Homo sapiens: one gene and its partner. The protein of the gene in region 1 purifies or fractionates together with the protein of each later gene. This does not show direct contact. Each region holds a gene or a part of one and is shown on either strand. Other genes may lie near its edges. The genes, in order: SCML2 and CCNE2.

Evidence for each region.
Region 2: the proteins of SCML2 (region 1) and CCNE2 purify together in Homo sapiens (pull-down; one study listed by IntAct). This does not show direct contact.

What each region holds. Positions count from the first base shown.
Region 1 is NC_000023.11:18,327,088-18,330,912, reverse strand, and holds part of SCML2 (sex comb on midleg-like protein 2), read left to right. Parts: intron 1-257; coding exon 258-326; intron 327-3,825. UniProt on the Homo sapiens protein: Putative Polycomb group (PcG) protein. PcG proteins act by forming multiprotein complexes, which are required to maintain the transcriptionally repressive state of homeotic genes throughout development.
Region 2 is NC_000008.11:94,888,618-94,892,442, reverse strand, and holds part of CCNE2 (G1/S-specific cyclin-E2), read left to right. Parts: intron 1-1,892; coding exon 1,893-2,028; intron 2,029-3,825. UniProt on the Homo sapiens protein: Essential for the control of the cell cycle at the late G1 and early S phase.

The DNA of each region.
Region 1 (3,825 bases):
GATACCACAGTGAATGAGATAGACAATAAAATAAATAAATCTCTGCCCTTTTGGAGATTTCATTTGAGTAGAGTGAGACAATAAATGAGCAGATTATAAAATGCATAGTACATTAGAAAATGGTAAGTCCTACATAGAAAATGAAGATATTATAAAACTAAAATTGGCTCTTTAAAGTTTTTTAATTTATATTTTTCTGAGTGCTCTTTCAAGCTGTTGCTGTGGACTCCCAGTATTGCTATTTTCTTTTTTATTAGATTCCATGGATGTCAAGAAGGAGAATCAAGAGAAAACTCCTCAGTCAAGTACATCTTCTGTACAAAGGGGTAGGTTTTAAAGTAATTTAATACAGCATAGTTTTCTTCCTCACTAGTGTTAAAATTAACTTTAAGTGCAAATTTTCTTATTGTTTTGATTTCTTATTGTACAGTCTGTATACTGTAAACTTCTGTAAATACAAAATGTAATAAGAAAGGTCAAAAATTGTATTTTATTTTGAAAATTTTACTTAGAGATAAGTTGACACGGATTAAGTAAAAGGGTAACTTTGTATATTTCAGTGCAAATTTTCCTAAATTATAGGTATCTAGTTATTAATTGCCATGTATTACCAATTTAAAATAATTTGGTTATTAGCAAAAACCCTTCTAACGTTACAGTCAATGTGAAAGCTTTTTTTTCATGGTCAGAAGACAGTTCAGTGGTTAAGAGCTTATAGGCATTGTGGTGAGTCCGACAGATGTGTTCTGGAATTCTGTCCTCACTCCTTACTGGCCATGGTGACCTTGGGCACATTACTCAACAGCTCTTAGACGTTTTTTCTTCTTCTTTCTTTGAGACAGAGTCTCGCTGTGTCACCCAGGCTGGAGTGCAGTGGTGTGATCTTGGCTCACTGCAACCTCCACCTTCCGGGTTCAAGCGATTTTTGTGCCTCAGCCTCCCGAGTAGCTGGGACTACAGGCATGCACCACCACGCCTGGCTAGTTTTTGTATTTTTAGTAGACATGGGGTTTCACTGTGCTGGCTAGGCTGGTCTCAAACCTCTGACCTCAGGTGATCCACTTGCCTCAACCTCCCAAAATGCTGGGATTACAGGCGTGAGCCACTGTGCCCGGCTCTTTTTTCTTCTTTATAACACAGGGATAATGATAGTACTTATCTCATGGCACTACTGGAAATAAATAGAGGAAATGAATTTAAAGCACCTAATATAATGCCTAGGCATATAGTAAGTGTTCAGTAAATGTTAACTTTATTAATTCATGTTCCTTATTATGAACAGTACATGTATAATATTGCATCAGAGACACTCAGGAGATGTAATAGAATCTGATGCATTGGCTTGCTCTTAAATGAGAAAATAAGTCATATGTACACAAAAGGCATTAAAAAATAACGTAGCAAACTATTGTTTTACCAGACATTTCCAGAGATTTCTTGCCCCTTGTGTTTCTGTTGTATCTGCCCTGCCAGCCCCAGTGCAGAGCAGTTCACCCTATGACCTTCTGTTCCTACTTGAAGATTGCCTATAGAGGTAATCCCCACGGAATTGTTGTTCTCTCACTGTAGCTGGGCCCTCAGTGCTCCCTTAACTTTCTTTACCATGGCCTTATTTGTTCTTCAACTCTTCCCTGGGACCCCCAAATCCTCTGAGGAAATGGAGGCCATTGAATTAGACTGTTCCTTATCCCTACAAACTCCTCTCCATCTGTTTTTAAAAATATAACAGCTTTACTGAGTTATAATTCAAATATCATATAATTCACCTATTTAGAGTGCACAATTCAATGGTTTTCAGTATGTTCACAGAGTTGTGCAACCACCACCACAGTCAATTTTAGAACATTTTTATCCCCCTAAAAAGAAATCCTGTACCCATTAACAGTACTCCCCATTTCTCCCTAGTGCCTCCTGTCTCCCCCAGCTCTAGGCAAACACAGGTCTACTTTCTGCCTCTATAGATTTTCCCATTCTAGACATTTAATTAAAAAAATAGATTACTTAAGTTGATAGCCATCTGCAGATACTTCTCAGGCCTGGGCCCTAACATCCTATTTTAGAAATCAGTGAGTGACTACCAGAAGGTAAGCTCCAAGAGAGCCAGGGTTTTAATCTGTTTTATTAACTCATGCATCTGCAGTACCTAGGACAGTGCCTGGCACATGCTGATGACCTGCTATGGGAATCCAGTTACGAACAATATAGACATGATTCCTGCCCTCTTTTATTGACTGACTGATTGAGACAAGGTTTTACTCTGTCATGCAGGCCAGAGTGCAGTGGCATGATCATGGCTCATTGCAGCTTTGACCTTCTGGTCTCAAGTGATCCTCTCACTTCAGCCTCCCGAGTATGTGGGACCACAGGCGTGCACTACCATGCCTGGCAATTTTTAACAATTTTTTGTAGAGACGGGGTCTCTCTGTGTTTCCCAGGCTGGTATTGAACTCCTGGGCTCAAGCGATCTGCCCGCCTCAGCCTCCCAAAGTGCTGGTATTACAGGTGTGAGCCACTGCACCCAGCCTCTTACCCTCTTTGAGCTTAGTGGGCAAGATAGAAATTAACAGATGCCTAATTGTAGTTGTGATAAATGCTGTGAATTAGTGGATGCTGATCATTCAGCTGAGAAACTTCTATCTCTAGGTATTTTGCCCATCTTCACATAGCAAGGGATCCCAAGGATAGCACTGGTGGAAGACATGATTCTGATTTACTCTAGAGAAGACCAGGGGAGCTCATATGGGTTATATTCAGTACAAAAAGATGTTGGAGCTAATGTGTAGACTAGAATAGAGTACAAATAAAAAAAGAAGAGACCATGGGCACATGTGAATAACAATCAGATCACAAGGAGATATATATATAAAATCATATCAGTTCCCAGGCCTCTCTTCTGAGATAGAATACTGCCCCCATCCCCAGTCTGTCAATGAAGACATGATGCAGAGGCAGACTGGGACCTCAGGCTTAACTAAGACTTTCTGACTATTTTGGCTTCTGGTTGGGAATTCCAATGGTGGTATTGACGTAGATGTGTCAAGTCTAAATTAGTAAAGCCTGGAGCTTTGTGTGTTTCCCCTATGTTATGAACACGTGGGCAGCCAAGATGAACAGTTTTATCAAGATGATTAAGAATTTTGCCTTATGGAAAAAGGGGAAAAGAAAACAAACAAAAACCAACGAACCTGAGGCTCCAAATGGCAAATGCTGCATATGGTCATTAACCAGTAATTTGATAGAAAATTATATTGTAGAGCACTAGTATAAAGGATTTGCTAGCTCAGATTGTAGCCCATTCAGACACAAATGGTAATAGAATATTTTAAAAATTTGTGTTATGGAGATGAATTAAGTATTTTCTAATATTACTGAAAAATTTTACAAATGTCATTGGTTTATGGAAGAGTGTTAGTTCTTTGGGTATTCATTTCCTGCTTGTTATTTCTGACTTACACTATTTTCCTCCAGGGTGTCAACTTCTTAATGACATCCATCCATCCCAACTAAATGTTTTGTTTTGTTCTTTTTTTGTTGTTGTTGTTGAGACGGAGTCTCCCCCTGGTTGCCCAGGCTGGAGTGCAGTGGCGCGATCTTGGCTCACTGCAACCTTCGCCTCCACCTTCCGGGTTCAAGCGATTCTCCTGCCTCAGCCTCCCAAGTAGCTGGGAGGCACCCGCCACGATGCCCAGCAATTTTTTTTTTTTTAGTAGAAACGGGGTTTCGCCATGTTGGCCAGGCTGGTCTGGAACTCCTGACCTCAGGTGATCTGCCCACCTCGGCCTCCCAAGTGCTGGGATTACAGGAGTGAGCCACTGCGCCTCGCCC
Region 2 (3,825 bases), on another chromosome or scaffold:
TACCAAACTTAATAAGGTCTATACTTAATTCTTTTTTCTAGTCCATGAGTGTAACTAAGAGGTACAGCTTATACAAAACATGTACTGTATTAATTTATGATTGGCCTTAATAAGCAATTTAATGGAATCAGACACTTAAACTCACCAATCCCCCTTTCCCTGCATTCTGTCCCACCTTACCCACCCCATAGGTGATCCTGCTGTAGATGATCTATTTAGAGGTGATTGAGACTTCTCTTGACTGTGATCACATGCCTTATGTGTTTAACTTTTTTGTATTGCTCTTGAGAAAACATTTTTTTTCACTTTTAATTGCATTTATTTTAGTGCTGAATTTACTCCTGTGCCATAAGTTTTTGTTTCTTCAGTTTCTTCTGGGATATCTTTTTCTTCTGGGCAACCGCCTCTTCTGGTTTAGGAACAATTTGTTCCTTTTCACTAAAGATCATTTCGATGTGGCAGGGAGAGATCACGTGTGAGTTAATCCGACCATGAGCTCTGTAGGTCCGTTGGCACATCGTAGGTGCTTTGTTCACTTGGAGATGCTCAATGACCAGAGAATCTACATCTAAACTCTTAAGTTCAGCATTACTCTCTGCATTTTTAAGCATGTGCAGCAAAAATTCAGCACTCTTTTTGGGCCACCAACCTTGTGTCCAGTCCCACTGCTTGGCCTGGGTACACCTACCAACTCCACCATTGTAATGTCAGAATGGCACATGCTGTTTCTGTAAAGTGACATTTTAAAAATACTTCATGGTGTTTTTTTTTTTTTTTTTTTTTGGAGACAGAGGTTTGCTGTTGTTGCCCAGGCTGGAGTGCAGTGGCACGATCTCGGCTCACTGCAACCTCCACCTCCTGGGTGCAAGTGATTCTCCTGCCTCAGCCTCCTGAGTAGCTGGGATTACAAGCATGCCACCACGCCCAGCTAATTTTTTGTATTTTTAGTGGAGACGGGGTTTCACCATGTTGGCCAGGCTGGTCTCGAACTCCTGACCTTAAGTGATCCACCCACCTTGGCCTCCCAAAGTGCAGGGATTACAGGTGTGAGCCACTGTGCCGGCCACTTTGTGGTTTTTCATATATGCATACCCTTGATAGCCTGGGCAGTTTCACGAGTGTTCTTACAGTGAACACAAAGATTTGAACCTCTTGATTTGCATGATTTTGTGGGGTTTTCCAGGTAAAGTGAATAGCCAGCTATTTTCACAGATTACTTCAGACCACTTATGGGAAAAGCAACGTGGTTATCTTTTAACAGCAACCTTTGTAAAGTATAAATAAGTGGAACTAGAAAGCACTCCCTTGAAATCTGCAGGTTTGGATGATCATAGTCCAGGTTCCCACTGTGTTACTTCAGGCTTCTATTTATTCATGCAAAGGAAATTGTTTCCAAAAATTAAGGCAGAAGTTTTTTTTCTTATTTACTTTAAGAGCTTCTTCCAAGTTCTAATTAAAAGTTGCATTTCAATGTCTGAAAGTTGAATTTTATCTATGTGAAACAGAGTTTGTATATTACATGGATTGCACAATTTAAATTATGTTTTTTAGCCGGGCATGGTGGGTCACGCCTGTAATCCCAGCACTTTGAGAGGCTGAGGCAGGTCGATCACTTGAGGCCAGGAGTTCGAGACTAGCCCAGCCAACATGGTGAAACCCCATCTCTACTAAAAATACAAAAACTAGCCAGGCTTGGTGGCAGGCACCTGTAACTCCCAGCTACTTGGGAGGCTGAGGCACAAGAATCGCTTGAACCCAGGAGGTGGAGATTACAGTGAGCCAAGATTGTGCCGCTGCACTCTAGCCTGGGCCACAGAGCGAGACTCTGTCTCAAAAAAAAAAAAAAAAAAATATATATATATATATATGGTTTTTTTCCTCTCTTTCCATAGCTGGGGATGTTCAAAAGAAGTCTGGCTAAACATGTTAAAAAAGGAGAGCAGATATGTTCATGACAAACATTTTGAAGTTCTGCATTCTGACTTGGAACCACAGATGAGGTCCATACTTCTAGACTGGCTTTTAGAGGTATGTTACAGCAATACAAATTTCCTTTGTCTCTGTATGATGGAAACATATTTAGCTGTAAATGTGCTTTCTATGTACTCTCAAGAGTTTATTGTTCATCCCCAGGAAGCTGTCTTTTTTGAGGTACTTACTGTAGTTGATTGCACCCAAAGTGGAAAGTGACTCTATAAGAGTAAAACCATGACAAAGCTACTACATATAACTAAACCCAATTCAGAATTCCTGTTACCTGTGGATACTGCTGTGTACCAACCACTTTCTGGGTGCCACAGATACTCAAGGTGAATGGAATGTATAGTTGATTAGGTTTTGAATTATGCTATACAAAGTGAAGAACTAGAACTAGGCTTCAGGGCCCTCTGAAGTCTTTTTCTGTATTAACAAAATCATGATGATGAGGAATCCTGATTTCTATATCCTAAACCATAATGAGACTATGGATATCTGGAAGCTCTACGCCCTCTATTGTCCAGATACCTTCTCTTTATTATATTCTTCTATTCTTTTCCGAAATATACCATTAATTTAAAGGAATAGTGATCCTGAAGCCCCTATAGATTTGTGCCAGATTTTTCTCTCTTGTTTAGGTCCATTCCCTTTCCTCTGGATAATAGCTCTAAAAAAGTTTCTAAAATTATTATTAAGGAAATCATTACTTATGTTGATGACAAACTGATTTTTCCTCCAACTCTTGGATATTTGCTCTGTAGTCTGTCTTTAAGACAAGAGATGAAGCATTCTAAGGGAAAAAGACCATAGACTTTTTGGAGGAGGAACACATGGCAGAATAGATCTCAGAAGCTATCAGAACAGTTTTTAAGACTAAAATGTTATCCTTTTGCATCAGGTCATCTTTTTCCTTATTCTGACTAGAAGGAAAGATTGTATTTTAATTGTGGGCACAAGAAGGCATTGGGTTTTGACTTTTTCTGACTGTCTAGTGATCATGGAATCAACTTAAGCACAATTATGTTAATTTTTAATTTGTTTCCTTTTTGTTATACTGATATTCATCCAGTGGTTATCCAATTCAATTTGTTCCTGTTTTTACCTAAATATGATTATGTATGCAACAGCATACAGAATATATCAAATCCAGCAGTGTTAAACTCTATCTTAGTGTATTCTTCAGTCTAGGAATGCAAACTTGATTCAACATTTGAAAATCTATTAATTTATTACCTTAACAGTAAATAAGAAAAATGCTAAGATCTCAATAGATGCAAAAGACATTTTTTGAAATTCGACATTCTTTTTTTTTTTTTTGAGACGGAGCCTCGCTGTTGTCACCCAGGCCAGAATGGAATGGCACGATCTCAGCTCACTGCAACCTCTGCATCTCGCGTTCAAGCGACTCTCTTGTCTCAGCCACCCACATAGCTGGGATTACAGGCGCAGGCCACCACACCTGCTATATTTTGTATTTTTAATAGAGATGCGGTTTCACCCTATTGGCCAAGCTGGTCTTGAACTCCTGACCTCAAGTGATCCGCCCGCCTTGGCCTCCCAAAGTGCTGGGATTACAGATGTGAGCCACCGCACTCGGCCAGCAAAAGAGATTTTCTTAACTCATTATTAGAAACTCATGTGGCCAGGTGTGATGGCTCATACCTGTAATGCCAGCACTTTGGGAGACTGAGGCAGGCAGATCAGTTGAAGCCAGGAGTTTGAGACCAGCCTGGCCAACATGGCAAAATCCCATCTCTACTAAAAATACAAAAAATTAGCTGGGCATGGTGGCACACACCTGTAATCTCAGCTACTCAGGAGGCTGAGGTAGGAGAATCGCCTGAACCT